2 separate regions of the Homo sapiens genome follow, and region 1 is linked to region 2. Evidence: fine-mapped expression QTL. Tissue or cell type: whole blood. Region 2 holds a variant in brackets; the other region holds the start of a gene. All regions are shown on one strand. Distances are between the middles of the regions.

Region 1 (8,000 bases), 110 kb after region 2:
TACCACTTCATACCTCTTAAAATGGCTATTATCAAAAACATAAATAAAAAACAAAATAAATATTGATGAGAATGTGGAGAAGTTGGAATCCTTGTTCATTGCTGGTGGGAATGTAAAATAGTGCAGCTGCTATGGAAAACAGTATGGCAATTCTTCAAAAATTAAATATATAATTACTGTGTTCCATCATTTTCACTTCTGGGTTCCCAAAAGAAGTAAAAGCAGGGACTCTAACAGATATTTGTACACCCGTGTTCATAGCAGTATTATTTACAATAGCCAAAACATGGCCCGAGTGTCCATCAAAAGAGAATAAACAAAGTATAGTCTATACATTCAATGGAATATTATTCAGCTTAAACAGGAAGGAAATTCTAGCACATGCTACAACATTGATGAATCTTAAAGACATTATGCTAAGTGTATTAAGCCAGTCACAAAAGGACAAATATTGTATGACTTCACATATATGGGATACTTGGTCACATTCATAGAGACAGAAGTAAAATGGGGGTTTCCAGGAGCTGAGAGAAGGAGGGAAAGAGGAGGTATTGATTAATGGGTATAGAATTTCAGTTTTGCAAGATAAAGACAGTTCTATGGATGGACGGTGGTGATGACAGCACATCAATGTACTCGCTACCACAGAACTGCATACTTAAAAAAATAGTTAAAATGGGAAATGTTATGTTATGTATATTTTATCACTATAAAAAAAGTCTCCCTAAACCTGTGAGGCAGTGGTAAAGACCAAGAATATGCTAACTTTTCCTTATGCCACCAAGGAAGAAAAAAATAACATTTCAGTACCTTCTATGTAGAAATCACTCACTTATCCGCACACAAAAGCAAAAACAAAGCAAAACAACAACTTTGATTATGTATTACTAGCCCTTCTTTACAATGAGGAAACTGAGGTTCCTAAGTTAATGTACCAAGGTAAGTAGTAAGAACCAGTAATAGGTTTCAAAGGCAGATCTGCCTGGCTCCAAAGCCTGCGTTCTTTTCACTCCACAGTGTTTTCTCCTACCCACAGAAGTCTTTTATGAACAGGCTTTCTACTTTGACTATACAGCTTTTAGACTTAAAAGTTGGGCCTGCTTTCTGAAGCAGGCTAAACAAAGTCAGTCAAACAAACACATTCACTACATGTCCACCATATGAGGCCCAAGGCTGGCAATGAAATAATGGAGTCATGTTTCCATTCAGCCATTGGCCATATGGCAGAAAAAAAAAAAAAAAGCACAATTAAAATTTCTGTGTTGGTCTACTCCTCAAAAGCCAGTGAATACCCCAGGAAAAATCATTAAGTCTTTCAATATTCCATATGGCCAGAATAAGTGGAAATAGTTTCATTTTACAATGTAGAAGCATATTCATCTTTTTCCTAAACATTCTACCATCATAGTTACTGATCTGCTGTTACTCACTAATGTTCTGCTTCAAGCTGGAATTTAACGATTAAGAAATGTTTTGTGCTGTGCAGAAAATAGGCACCTCTTAGTTGTTTTCAGAAAGATAGCAAGGCCCTCTTGACTCTACTATGCCCGTCGGGCAAGGTTTCATTTTCTTACTCATGTGTGAAACACACACAGAAGACTAATGCAGATTGTCTGTGCCTCCCCAAACAAAGTAGGGTGTTGGCATTATCTAGTGAATACAGCCTGCAGAGGAGTAAGTACCAAAGGGTAAGCCTGTCCTTATCCATGCAGCTCAGGTTGCCAACTTTTTACTTCATTTCATGATGCACAGCTTGATTCTAGAACTCCACTGGGTCATTCTGGATCGAAGATCTATCCTAGGTCTCTTCTCTAAGAAGATGATCTTTACATACTTCCCTTTAAGATGCAAATAGGAAGTGGAACTGCAAAATCCATGTCACGACTTGTTTTGCCCACAAGTTTGATTAAATTCAGTGAATCCTTCAAGGAGTTCCATGGTTTCAATACTAGCAGTACTTTGTCTCTTAGGCATGGTGCAGGTTTACTTTAATGAGCAAAAAACCTCTGAGAAATAGACTTTTTTTTTCTTTAGTAGCTATAAAAGCTTCCCATCTCTCAAAATGTGCTGCTACTCCACAGATTTTGAGAAGCCATATCGATTTCATAAAGATAGCATTAAAAATAGCCCTATAGCTCTTAACAAGTGAGAACGATGATAAAGGAGGAGGCATATACATACATACACTCTCAACTAGCATATTTGGTATCTAAGAACCTATGTTTCAAGAATCTGTGAGTGTCAAAATATTGACTTTTTTTAAATTTTTACTCCACTATAAGCAGTTTTTTCTCTTTCTTTTGAAAAATTATCTCCTTTCATTATAGAAACTCTAGAAGAAAAACCCTTTTATCAATGACTACTTACTGCTTAACTGTACTTTCTGTTGAAGATTAAAAAAGCTTAATTCTTTAAATCGTGCTGCATGAGGGTATTAAACTCCCTAATATATCCTGTCAGAGGAATCTCACAATCTCAGTTCTCATCTGCTAGACCTATTTAGTGTACTTTTACATATCATTCATAAATATGAACAAGTCATAGACCCAGGCTCTCATTAAGAACATCCTTTGCTCAAGAAAATCAAAGAATAAAAATCATGTTCTGGTTTTACTACTTCAGTCTATCTACCAGATATTCGCGTAAGGAAACAACCCAGCTGCACTTTTTTATTTTGTCCCTCACCGAGGCTAACATGCACCTTGACCTAGAGGTGAATAAAATGCATATAAACATAAAATCCATGCATATGCTAGTATCTGATTCTGGACAAGTTACTGGCCTTAAACCCGCCACGCTCCTTTGAACAAGGATGCAACTTTAGGATAAGACCTACTGGCAAATGATAGCTGTGTCTGAGGTTATCCTGAAAGCAGCTGCACAAGCTGAGGGAGGAAGACACTGTTTTTTAATGGTAAATACTGCCCCTCACATACGCAATTCAAGCCTTTGTTGGCAAAATCTAAGTACAAAAGAATTTAACTCCCCCAAAAGCCAAATCACAGCCATTATTTTTGCAAAACAGAAGATATCCCAGTGCAATGTGTAAGAAAGAGAATGCAATTAATATTTTACACCACTCACTCCCCTAAAACAAGGGGACTGCCGGGCTCCGATGACCAGACCACAGCTTCACAGCCCCAGATGGATTTCGACTCAGCCCTGGTTTTCCTCCGAGAGAACTATACAAACAGCTTCTTGTATTTAGCATGTTGGCCTGTTTAGTCATCAAATCTAAGCACTGATGATGAGGTTTTTTTAAATCAAATGTGTCATAAATGTGGTTATTCTCAAAGACCCTTCCAAAAGAATCTAATCATTTCCCCTAGTCCTGAAGCGATGTCTCTATCATCCCTTAGAAATCGGACCTTAAAACCACAAGCGACGGTCGTTTTTCTCAATTAAAAACGAGCAACATGGAAAACGTTTCATTTACCTTAGCTCCCGAGGCTTGGTCCGAGGAGCGTGGTTTTCCCCTCTCCGGAGCTGATCTGTGCAGGCGAGCTCCGGCGCAGCCCAGCCCAGCCCAGCCCAGCCCAGCAGTAGTAGGAGTTGCCCACGGAGCGCGGCGGCAGCGTTGTGAGTATGTGTAGCAGCGGCTGCAGCCCAGGGACTAGTCCCCACCCAGCTTTGTCTTCAATCAACGTTCTTTCTACAGGAAGCAGCGCATCTCCCACTTCCTCCTCTTCTTGGTAGCTGTTAGCGGCTTGCTTCTTTTCCCTCTCATTTCCATTTCAGGGCTTACTCTGGTGGTTTTGTCTGCTCCTGGGCTGCTGACAGTGATTTGACTTTAATCCCCCTTCTCCCTTTGTTCAAGTCCCTCTGGTGCTGTCTGTTCCTTCCTTCCCCTTTTCTCATCCCCCCACGGTCACCTCCACGACAGCTTCCACACACTGCTCAGTCGGCCCCCTTCCTGGCACACTGCCTGCTTTTTTAGCCTGAACCTGGCTTGTTGCTATTGTTGTTCTTGCTGTTGTTGTTTCTACTGCTGCTGCTGTTTTTTTTTGGGTCAACATCCCCTGGCCAGGTTCTGGCCCCCGAGATCCCACACCAGCCTCCACTGTTCCTCCTGATTTACTGTGGTCCCCATCAAGCCAGCTAGCTGGGAGCTTGCAGCTTGCAGCTTGCAGCTTCTCACTGCAGCATTTTTCTCTGTGGCCAACATTTCAGAGGCTTCATTTCTCCAAGGTCCCACTACCACTGAGATCTTACTTAACCCACATGCTCAGAAAAGAATGGCCCTGATAAGTATTCTTATGGGGCACGGGAACTAAACCAAGTTGGCAATGCTACCTATAGGCCTAATAGTGAGGACTATTCCCAAAAGATTCTCATAGATGGGAAGGAATGAGGTGGTGCTGAATGCTGCACATTCCCAACAGAGAAACTGAATACTCCTCTCCCCATTCCACACACACTAGTAGGGCTGAAGGACCCTCATGATCCTCCAGTCCCTTCCCTTCATCTTAGGAGGTAATATCGTAGAACCCACCAGGGTAGAGCCTGCAAGCTGTCTCTGTCTGCCAGAATTTCAATCCAAATTGCCATTAATGACTGTATGAACTTGGGCAAATTATTTAACATCTATGTGCCTCAGTTTCCTCATCTGCAAAACATAGTTGATGATAGTCATGCTCTACATTGGAAATATGAGGATTAAATGAGATGGTATACAAGGTGCTAATAATAGTTCTGGGGATATAGGACGTATTCGGCACATATTAACTCTTATTATTTTTAGAGGATGTTGGGCCTCACATTCAGCAAGTGATTTCGCCAGTCAGCAGCCGAACCCTCACCAGTACTTGGTTTTCCAATTCCTCACTATTAGTATGTTCACAATTGAGCCCAGATGCTTTAATAACAATTTATTCAACGTGTGAGTCATTCTCCCCCTAGTACTAACACAAGGTACTTTGGGGAAGCTACAGATTAAACATGAGATGGGGGAAGGGGAATCCTGTTCTAGTGTCCAGGCAACATTATGGAGTTAAAAACAAAAACAACAACAACAAAAAACACCTCTTCTCAGGAATCAGTGCCTGGAAAGCTAATCTTGCCAGGAAACAGTTAATTCCCCAACTCCTCCTTTTTAATCCAGTTTTGCCTTAATCCTCCAGCAAGTAAACTAACAGGAAATGTTAGAAATCTAGGACTGATGGAGAATAACTCTCCAGTTGAGCCTTCCAAACACATCGTGAGGACCACAGCACGTTAACCTAGAAGGTACAGAATTTAATTTCTATGAAATGTTCTGAGACAGTCCCAAAACACCCTTTGTTTTGATTTGAACAGTTTGCTTATTTTTTCAAGGAAATCTTTCATCAAAAAGGACCCTGATGTCAACTCACTCACACCTGAAAATTACAAAATGGATTGATTTAAGATTGAAAATGAGCAACTAGCTTTGATCCACCAGCAGATAGAAATGCAGTAGTGAGAGGGATTGGGCATGAATCCACCAACATGTGAGTTATCTCCAAACCAGGAACCCTTGTGCCAAAGGTTACCAGGAACTTTTAAATGTAAATTTAAATATGCATGATGCCAAGTCTAAGAAAAATGAGAAGCATGTTATTAATGGTTGGAAACAAGACTATGGTTAATTTTAGACAAGTAGGTTCTGGCATAAACTCTAGATTCAAGTACAGTAATTTTTTGTGTCTTTTTGTTTCTAACTCTCTCTCAACCATCCTCCGATGGTTGGTATTTATATTTAAGCCTATATAGGTTGGTATTTATACTTAAGCCTATATAGGAAAACCTCTTTCAAACAATAAAATCTCTAGGAATTTTGCCTGCTGCCTTTTAATTAGTTCTTCCATCTCTGGCCCTTATAAAACTCACAGTAGGTTAATCGCCAGTGTTGGGAGGTGCCAACAAAACTCTATACAAAGCTAAAAACTAGATTTTAAGACCTCTCTTTCATTAATACCTCATTGCTTTTCAACTGGTCCTAATAGCCTCTTTTTCAGGAGAGAAAAGTAAAGTGTGGGGGTATAGCTTGGCCAGGATAGATTAATCCAGTTTAGAGCTCTTAACACAAGTTTGCATACCAAGTTTGCAAAGTGTTAATTTCTTAGGAAAATGACATCTCGCCATTAATAGTTTATGCATCAATTGCTAACCATGAGCCTATCCCAGTACATTTTATCACTGGGTAAAACAAAGTCTGTAAAATACTCTAACATTCATGCATGGCCTATTTGCAGGCATTAATACCTTGTATTTCTTACATCTACTGGTAGCGGAGGTTGGGTAATGAGGAGGACATAATTTTGGCCTGATGTCTCTCCTATGTTATTGAGCTTTCTAGCTGGATGTTCCTTGGAGTTATGTTTAATAATCCCCAAATTATGTACTATACCTTCATCCAAAGCCTGTTCCTCTTTCTATATTCTCCATTTCATTTAATGAGGAATACAAACCAGTTGCCCACATCAGGAATATAAGAATAATCCCAAAACCTTTTATCTTTGTTATCCCAATCTGATTTAAAGTTCCTCTTCCTTTCCTTCTCACCACCAAACTATCTCCTTGCCCAAACCCCTCCTCTCTCTTCCTCTTGCCACTGTCTTATTTTACAAATGCTTTGGTTTTTTCTGTGCAATTACAATACTTTCTACTTTGTCCTCCTACCTCCAGTCTCTCTTCGAAGCCATCCCCATCAGAAGTACATTGCTGAGATGGAGAGTTGATCAAGTCACTTTCCTACTATAATTCTTCAGTATCTTCCCCTCCAGGTTGCTTACAGGATATATGCCTTAATTCCTCTGCATGGCATACAAAGCCTTCTGTGATGTCACCTGTCCACATTCTCACCTTAGGGCCTGTCGCAGCCTTATATCCTACAACCTTCACAACAGGTTCCTGATGGGACTGTGCTGCTTTCTCCCTGCATCTTGGCACATGCTATTTCTGTTGCCAGAAATGCCCTATCCCTTCCTCTATTTTGCCTGCTAGTAAACCCCTACTTATCCTTTAGGACTCAGCTTTTCTCAGAAGCCTTCCCTGGCCGTGGAAACTAGGCAGGTGCTTCCTTTTCTGTGAGTATGACTGGTGCCTTGCCTCTACTTCCATTTCAGCACTAAAGCCATTATTTTCAGGTTTTGTTAGATGTGCATCTCACCCATTAGCATTTGGGTCCATTAAGGTTAGGTCCACATTTGCTTGTCACACAGCAGAGTCAACAGATGTTTGTATAATGAAAAGGCATCATTGGCAGAAATTCCATTCCTTTGAGTGAGGGGAGGAAAAGGAAGTCTCAAAAATGAGAAGTTGGTCATGGGGTAAGAAATAAAATCCCTCCCTCTCTATATATATATTTTGCAAATTTTCTATAGAAATCCATGGCACATGCACACAAAATTCTGAATATTTGTTATATGGGCAAGCCTAAAAAATTCTGGGACAACTCCTAGTTCCATTTCTGCATTGAACTTCTTATAAAGAAGCATAGTCTGGCAACAAAAAAGTAATTAGAAAATAAATATTAAGGCTGGGCTCAGTGGCCTATGCCTGTAATCCCAGCAATTTGGGAGGCCAAGGCAGGCAGATCACTAGGTCAGGAGTTCAAGACCAGCCTGGCCAACACAGTGAAACCCCATCTCTACTAAAAATACAAAAATAAGCCGGGTGTAGTGGTGCACGCCTGTAGTCCCAACTACTCAGGAGGCTGAGGCAGGAGAATCACTTGAACCCAGGAGGCAGAGGTTGCAGTGAGCCAAGATTTTGCCATTGCACTCTACCTGGGCAACAGAGCAAGACTCCGTCTCGAACAACAACAACAAAAAAGAAAAGAAATATTAAAAAGAAAGCTATTCTTTATTTGTATCTCTGTAGGAACTTTAAAGAGACTGATGAATAAGCTAGAAACACTTCTCACATCCCCTTCTGCACTCTCAAATCTTTGCCACATTCCAACTGTCCCAGAGCATCTCATATGCCAAATCCCCAAACTCTTTAATCTCTCTGCAATGCTGTACACCTCCTTCTCTCTC
Region 2 (8,264 bases):
AAAAAGGTTGCCATTATGCTAGAGCAGCGCTGTCTAATAGAACCTTCCACGGTGATGGAACTGTTCTCTATATCTGTGCTGTCCAAAGACAATAGCCATTAGCTGCATGTGGCTTTGGGCACTTAAAACATGGCTGGTTCAGCTGAGGAACCAAATTTTTAATTTTATTGAAAGTTGTAGTTAATTTATATCTAAATGTAAATCGCCAAATGCACACACAGGGAAGGGCAATTAGAGATAGTGTTCCCAGTAGATAGTGGAAGGGCCCCTTCCCCTGGGGCTAAAATTAAGGTGATACAGCCAGCAATGTATTTCCTGCAGCCCCTGGGCCTGAAGCCCACGAGATCTGACTTCCAGGTTGGTGCATGGTGGTATCACCCAGGCCAAAGGGCTGCTGGCTGAAGACAATGTCCCCATGATGTTGTGAAGACACGGAGCCAGTAGAGGTTGGAGGGGGAGAGGTGACGACCTCCACTCAGCTTTGGCCCATTGTTTTGTGTGCAGAGCCAATCGCCCACCCCTTTGCAGGGGAGAGCTTCATTCTCAGCTGCCCTACAATGAGGGAAAGATTAAAGAGAAGCCCATCCACCTAGTGTTGTCTACTTCCTAAAGGTTACACTACCCTAGAGACAAGATTCTTGGACGGACGCAGTGGCTAATGACTGTAATCCCAGCATTTTGGGAGGCCGAGGCGGGCGGATCACCTGAGGTCAGGAGTTCGAGACCAGCCTGGCCAACATGGTGAAACCCTATCTCTACCAAAAATACAAAAATTAGCCAGGCGTGGTGGCAGGCACCTATAATCCCAGCTACTCAGGAGTCTGAGGCAGGAGAATCCCTTGAACCCGGGAGGCAGAGGTTGCAGTGAACTGAGATTGTGCCACTGCACTCCAGCCTGGGCAACAAGAGTGAAACTCTGCCTCAAAAAAAAAAAAAAAAGATTATCATTTAAGTATGATTAACTCCAGCATCACCTCCTCTGGCTGGTCATCACTTCTACCCTCCCTTTAGCTTCTGTGTCCTAGAATTGACCACTTTGGTAACTGACTATTCACTTGTCTATTTTCTCCATTAAACCGCAAGCTCCGGAAGGCAGGTGCCATGCCTTCTACCCTAGCACAACGCCTCAAACACAGTCAAATACTCAACAATACTGACAGCAAGGGCAACAGGAGTGGAGAGAGGAGAAAGGTTCATATTTCCTGAAGTCATTCATAGACCTCGTGGAATTCAAGCTAAACCTTGACAGAAAAGCAAGTTTAGTTACTCAAGGAGTTGTGTAATGACATTCCAGAGGGGGTAACATCAGAAGCAAAAGGGGAGACTAGCCAGGCATAGTGGTGGGTGCCTGTAATCCCAGCTACTTGGGAGGCTGATGCAGGAGAATCACTTGAATCCGAGAAGTGGAGGTTGCAGTGAGCTGAGATCACGTCACTGCTCTCCAACCTGGGCAACAGAGCGAGACTCTGTCTAAAAAAAATGTAAAAAGCAGCAGACAGGGAAGTGGGATGAACTCACAGCACACTGAAGGAGACAGGATGAACTGGAAAAGAGGGTTTGGATGGCAAGATGGGATTAGCCAAGTGGGGCCTCTCAAGGGCCTTGAGAGCCAGGTAGTTGAGATTGGACATGATGTGGTTGACAAAGAGCACCATGAACCAGAGAACCTTGGGTTTCTGAACATGGTGAAAGATGAGGTAACATCAATAAATCTGTTAAGATGTGGTTGGCATCAGTTGTTTTTTGCCTTTAACTTTCAATCCTGCCTCCTGTAGCAAAAGGACTTCAATTTCCTTAGAACCACTGTTCTGCCCACATGGCCCAGTGACTCTACCTCTATCCCTAGGTCCAGGGGTGGGCGAGCACAGGAACCAGATCTAGCCAATAGTGTCTTAGGAAGGGTTCCAGGGATATAGCCAGAGGCTTCTGCTAGAGCTGTTGTTATCTTTCTTCCTTGATTACTAAACTGTTGAGATATAAACCTGGGCCTGCTGACACCATCTTGATGCTGCGGGGCAAGAGTCTGAGAATTAAACCAGCACAGAGAATAGCCTAGCCAAGGGATGACAGGGACATTCCATGACATCCTCTAAGCATCTGGATCCAGCTGGGCTTGAAGTGGGACCTATTTTGGGGCATTAGGTTTCTGTCACTTGCAATCAAAGAAGTCCTGACTAATGAATACTCAGGGTCAACTGGGTGAAAGTGGGAGGAGATGAGCATCAGAATGCCCATACCAGCTGGTGTGATGGGAATTCAGACATGAGACACTGAGGGTCTCAACCAGGGCATTTGGGGGCTAGAGAGAAAGGAGGTGAGTTAAGAGGTGAGCAGGAGCTATCTAGCGGTTTCCTTTCTTCGAAGGTTGCCGTCAAGTAGTTTCTAATGGTTCTTTACCACCTCTGCCTTCGTGATGCCCCTTTACCTCTTTCATTTTTCTTTTCTTTTTTTTTTTTTTTTGAGATGGAATCACGCTCTGTCACCCAGGCTGGAGTGCAGTGGCGTGATCTTGGCTCACTACAACCTCTGCTTCCCCGATTCAAGCAATTCTCACGCCTCAGCCTTCCAAGTAGCTGGGATTACAGGTGCCCACCACCACACTTGGCTAATTTTTGTATTTTTAGTAGAGACAGGGTTTCACCGTGTTGGCCAGGCTGAACTTCTGACCTCAAGTGATCCACCTGCCTCAGCCTTCCAAAGCGCTGGGATTATAGGCGTGAGCACTGTGCCCATCCTCTTTCATTTGTTTTTAACCATTTTGTGAGATAAATGAATCAGGCATTCTTGTACCCACTTTAAAGCAGGAGAGGTCAAAGGACTTGCCCAAGGTCGCATGGGAGCGCTGGAGCCTAGTTCTGGTTCTCTAGTGCATGCTAATGCTCGAGCACAGTGTGGACTGAGCTCCCCAGGCCCCGTCTTTCTGTTGCTTCATTGTGGAGATGCAATACCCGGCTCCCGGCTTTTCTTATGACTTCCAGAGAGAAACAGCAGTAGTTCTTGCTGAGGAAAGGCCCAGGAGCCCATGGCCTTCTTCATTAAAATAAATTCTGCCTGAGTCTCCTGGTTCTAAATAGAAGAAAATGTAGATTTGGGGCAGAACCGAAGGGAAAGGGATTTCCCTTGGCAAATTATTTGCAATTTGTGGATTGGAGCTGACCCAGCTCCAATTCCCTCTGTCATTCTAAGTGCCATCTACAATGTGACCAGCTTATTAAAGAATGAGAACTGGAGGCAGTCCTCCCACAGGGGCTCAACAAAACAGGAGCAGAGTCACAGCCCAGCTGCGTCTTCCTCAGTGTAGCATGTCTAGTTGCTGGCTAGATTCTCACCCTTCAGTTACATGTTCATGCCTAGGCAGCCACTTCTGGGGGCTGTGGGAAGAAGAGCGAGAATATTTATGAGTTGTTTGTGCCTTTCCTTTGGCAGTATGAAAAGCTAGCTGTCATAAATACTGTAGTGGTCCTCAGACTATAGCATGTAACAGAATGCACGTTCTTGAGTCACTGCCAGGGATTCTGAGTTCGTGGGTAGCTCAGGATCCGCTTTGTAAAGAGGCATTCCAGGTATTAATACTCCTGGAGCAAGTGGTCCATGGACCACAGTCTGAGAAACACTGATGTCAGTGGAGCACTAGTGTGCAAACTCCAAGTGGCCCCCTTCATCCGTGGTTTAAAGATGCTGCTGTTGCTGGCACAAGTCCCAGGAGATCCAGTGTTTCCTTCTTTACTAACAGGGTCTGTTACTGGCATAATCTGAGGAACATTCAGAAGTCTTTCTCGACTAAGAAGATCTCCAAGGAGCAGCTGCATCTAGAGTTCTAAGGACTTAGCTTCTCCTGTACTCCTTTTAAATCACAGATAGCTACAGAGAACAGCACTTCTGTTGTTCAGTCTTTATTTTTCATAAGGGAAAAAGCCCACTGTGGCATACCTGCAGCAAGTGAAAGTGTAAATACAGCTCCTCTGTCTGCATACTCCACCCTATCAGAGCCCTGGGCTCTCCTCACAGCCCCCACCTTTCTCTGTCCCCAAAGGCTGTACCCAAGATGTACAGACCTAGTAAGAAATGCTTTTAGAGTGTCAAGTGAGTTTTTTCTTCTTTCGGACATCTCTATTAACAAAATCCTAAAGAAAATCAATGGATTCCTATTTCCTCATCCATTCATACCATCAGATCCTTCTCAAATTGACCACAGAATCAGTGGCCGTCACAATGAAATTGACTGCATATGAAATGAATCTGAAAATTCCATTTATTAAAACACATACATTGTCCATGTGGGATGAAAATGTGCACATCACATTCAGGTTTTCCTGCTTTAACATTTCTGTAGTTCTCTCTTTGAAACACACACTCCACAGATCTTATATAGGAAAAATGTGAACAACTTTTGGGCTGCAAAACATTAATGCATACATAACAATTCATCATTGCCAAGAGCAGCTAGAAGCAAATATTAAGGAAGAAAGACAAAGAAGTATAAAAATTCCTAAAGACAGCATGCTTTATTTTCTCAAAATTCCATATGTGACTATGAGCGTATGGAGAAATCGTTTGATTTTTAAATTTATTGTTTTGTCCTTGGTAGGCAATCTCCTTCAAATATTATTAGCAAAATCAAACATAGATCAAAGTAT[G/T]TATTTGCATCTTCTGATTGAAATTAAACAGTACTTGGTTTCAAATGTTTTAAAAATAACACTTTTTAAACTGGAGTTGATATTGAGGATCATGTAAAATTATTCTTTATAGACTTTGCATTCTAAATATGAAGTTTATTGTTACTACTTATTAGTTAATTCCACGGCAGATTTTCATTTCTATCGAATATATTATATGTAGAAACTAGGGCCTTAAATAATTAAGCTGACTTTTCCTATTAGTTATTCCTTAAGATAAAATTATGCTGGTGAAAATGACTGTTGAATTTCTCAAGAAATTAAGCTCTATAGAGGCATAAGTAATCGAAAGACTTTTTCCCCTGAATAAGTACAAATACCAAGAAGCCAAAACTCATATAAAGATTTTCGTATTATAATTCCATACTGTAAGACATAAAATTATGAAAAAGCCAAAACATTTTCCTTAAAATGCTCCCTAGAAATTGTAATTCCATCTTAATTGCTCCAAAGATCTAGATTTACATGGAAATATAAAGAGTCCTTCTGAGAAAAGGAAATGCTGTGAATAGTGGAAATCGTCTGGGCCTTCTAATGATGCCTCAGTCACCACCAAAGAGTGTTTTATTCATTCATCCGTGTTTTCATGTGACCACATACTCAATTCATGTTTTGGCCCATGTAAAAACTGTGATATGTTTTAGCTTATTCCATAGTGTTACTAAGCTAATTGTACAATGCTGTAGTTTAATAAATACTCTGCTGTTTTTTTCACCCCTAAATCTTCATGGGCGTCCTAACTGTAACAAAAACCCCACAATTTGAACAGAAGAACAGAAGTATCTGGTTACAGAAGTGCATTCATACATTTCACAAATGTTTCAGTATCCTCTTCTCCCCGACCCCAGCATGAGCTTTAATTGGATGTATTTATTCTTTCACCAGCATGCCCATGAAGGAGCTAAGGAAAACATTTACCAAGTCTGTTTCAAAATCTGTCCTTGGCATATCAAACTTTTTCTCTTCCTTTTTCATGCTTTTTTTTTAAAAAAAAAACAGGAGAAAGCGAATAGAGAGGAAAGAGACAATAAAATTAATTGGGAGATGGAGATGATATTTGGGGATTTGAAAGCAAACAAGATGTAAGAGAGGCCCTCTTTGACTGAAAATGACACAGAAAAAGGTGATCAAGTCTTCCAGGGCCTGCTGTTACTGATGGAGACTACAGCTACAATGAAAAATTACTCTCACTACCATATCTTGGGGAAGGAGCGCTCTAGTTGCAAGGAATTTGTAAATAAAGGCCGAGAGACTCTAACAAACAAGATGGAGAACAAAAACAAAGATTCCATTAAAAAATTTGTTAAGTGAAAAACCAAGACCATCTCAGTGGACAAAAGAGCCAGAACTCTTCCTCGTAGAGCCGGCCGTGGGGACCGCACCTGCCGCCCAAAGAGTGGCGATTTGAGGTCCTTCTCCCTGGAGAGTGAATAGCTGGAGTTCTGAGAATGGTCACCTTCTCTGGAGCTGTGGGTTTATTTCTTCTGATACTTGAACAAAGGAGGGCCATGGTTTTCTTGTTAAGAGCACAAAAAAATGTTCTTTTAATCTAGAATGTCCATGATTCAGGGAAAGAGGGAATTTGCTCATACTCATGGCAAAAGCATTTCCCAGCTCATGGTGAATCCTTAACTCTCCTGCTTGGTGACAGCTGTGCTGCCCTGGGTCCTGGATAAACCAAAATGCTTTGGATTCTGGAAAACGTATTGAAGAGGCATTTATACCACTATTAACTAGGAGGTATTTTAGGTGTGGCTAAGGCTCTGAAGTAATCTCAATTTTCAAAATACTGAGATTTTCTTCCCTCTCCGGGGTCTTTTCCCTCTCATTTCCTTTCCCAGCTTTAGAGTAAAACAACAAAACTTCTGAATGGATGTAACATAGGGACATTTTCATGCAATATTACTCAAAAATTGTCACAAATATATGAAAGCACCAGTCACAACACAGGATTTACTTTTACTTGCAGAATCAAAGCTATCATGTACACATGTTAGGAATAGTGAAAAGAGAACACAGACAACCGGCATTTTTTGTCGTTGTTACCATGAGGATACACCACGGGGAACATCTCCCTAAACATTTTGTGTGATCATTCTTGGAGTTCAATCTGATAGACCAGTCCAGCCTTATCTCCACACTACTCTAATGGGGAGGGGTGGAAGGAGGGGTAGAGGAGAAGGAAGAAAGAAAAAGAAAGGCACAGTGACTATACATCAATGCCATTAAACCGAATTGCATCTACACGGGACAGCTCAGCTTATCAAAGGGTATTCTAAAGACAATATTCATTCCAAGAAGGTCACACATATCTTACCTCAGTACAGCTGTCTGTTTTAATTGTTATTTTTCAAAATATGAAGCAGAAACATGAGGATTTTGGGGGGGGGGCTGGGGGATAGCAGAAAAGAAGTGACACCAATTTTATTTTTATATATTCCCCTCCTCCAGGCAGTTCGTCAGAATCAGATCTCTTAAGTCAGGATGTGGATCGGCTTGCATTCTCATAAAGGGGACCAGATCTTTAAACATGCATAGCCTAGAGTTTCCAGAATGGTTCTCCTCGCTCTCTTCAAATGCCGTGGACTAGAAAGGTGCCCACTTCACTAAAAACTCTACATCAATGTCCCAGGAGCCCGGAGGCTCTTCAGGCCCCTCTCAAAGACTTAAAGGATGGCACAGAAAAACTTCTTCTCCCTAAACGGGTTTTCTGAAGCCGGAACAGGGGTCAGGAGGGGGTCTTCCTTGGCATGTGCTTCACAGTAGGCCATCAAATCTGCAGCTGCCTTGGACACCTGGAAAGGGAGACAAAAACAACCAACACTGGAGTCTGGTACAGTCAGTCAAGGCCCAAGGCTTTAGAGCCCAATGTCCTGGCATCAAATCCTTGCTCCATGAAGCAAGATACTCAGCCTCTAAAAGCTTCTGCTTCCTCATCTGCAAAGAAGAAAGTTGACGACACTGACCTTACAGGATTGTTGCCAGCAAGTCTGGGACTAGGTTAAGGTGAGTGAGGCACTTAGGGTGCAGAACCGAAGGAGGCACTCGCTGGCAGGGGCATGCAGGTGTCAACCCTGCACTTCCATAGCCCCGCAGGTGGCTGTCTCCTTCATTTGTTTTTTTTTTTTTTTTTTTTTTTTTTTTGAGATGCAGTCTCGCTCTGTTGCCCAGGCTGGAGTGCAGTGGCTTGATCTTGGCTCACTGCAACCTCTGCCTCCTGGGTTCAAGCAATTATCTTGCCTCAGCCACCCTAGTAGCTGGGACTACAGGTGTGTGCCATGGTGCCTGGCTAATTTTTTGTACTTTTGGTAGAGACAGGGTTTCACCACGTTGGCCAGGCTGGTCTTGAACTCCTGGACTCAAGTGATCCACCTGTCTCGGCTTCCGAAAGTGCTGGGATTACAGACGTGAGCCACTGTGCCCGGCCCTCCTTCACTTTTGTGCTCCGATATCTCATTGCCCCACCCTGGTCCCAGCCCTGGTAACAAGGGTTAAATGAAAAAATCCCTGTAAATCATTTAGTGTCTGGCACATAGCAAGCTTTCCACACAGGCTAGCCATTATTATCATTTTGTAGTCGTGACTCTC

Evidence for each region. PIP is the estimated chance that this variant, and not a neighbour inherited with it, causes the effect.
Region 1: it holds the start of GNG2, and the variant in region 2 is fine-mapped to the expression of GNG2 in whole blood (INTERVAL, PIP 0.99).

Annotation. Positions count from the first base shown.
Region 1 is chr14:51,856,227-51,864,226 of GRCh38, reverse strand. It overlaps GNG2 (G protein subunit gamma 2), which reads right to left and starts at 3,615. Exons shown (of 4, transcript NM_053064.5): 1 at 3,437-3,615. RefSeq lists enhancers at 3,499-3,708, 3,495-3,996 and a silencer at 4,049-4,128.
Region 2 is chr14:51,965,766-51,974,029 of GRCh38, reverse strand. GNG2 (G protein subunit gamma 2) reads right to left here. Exons shown (of 4, transcript NM_053064.5): 4 at 4,235-7,471. The coding sequence ends at 7,343. Among named protein-coding and RNA genes, the nearest start is that of RTRAF, 20 kb to the left of the region's middle. The variant G/T (reference allele first, on the strand shown) is at 4,638.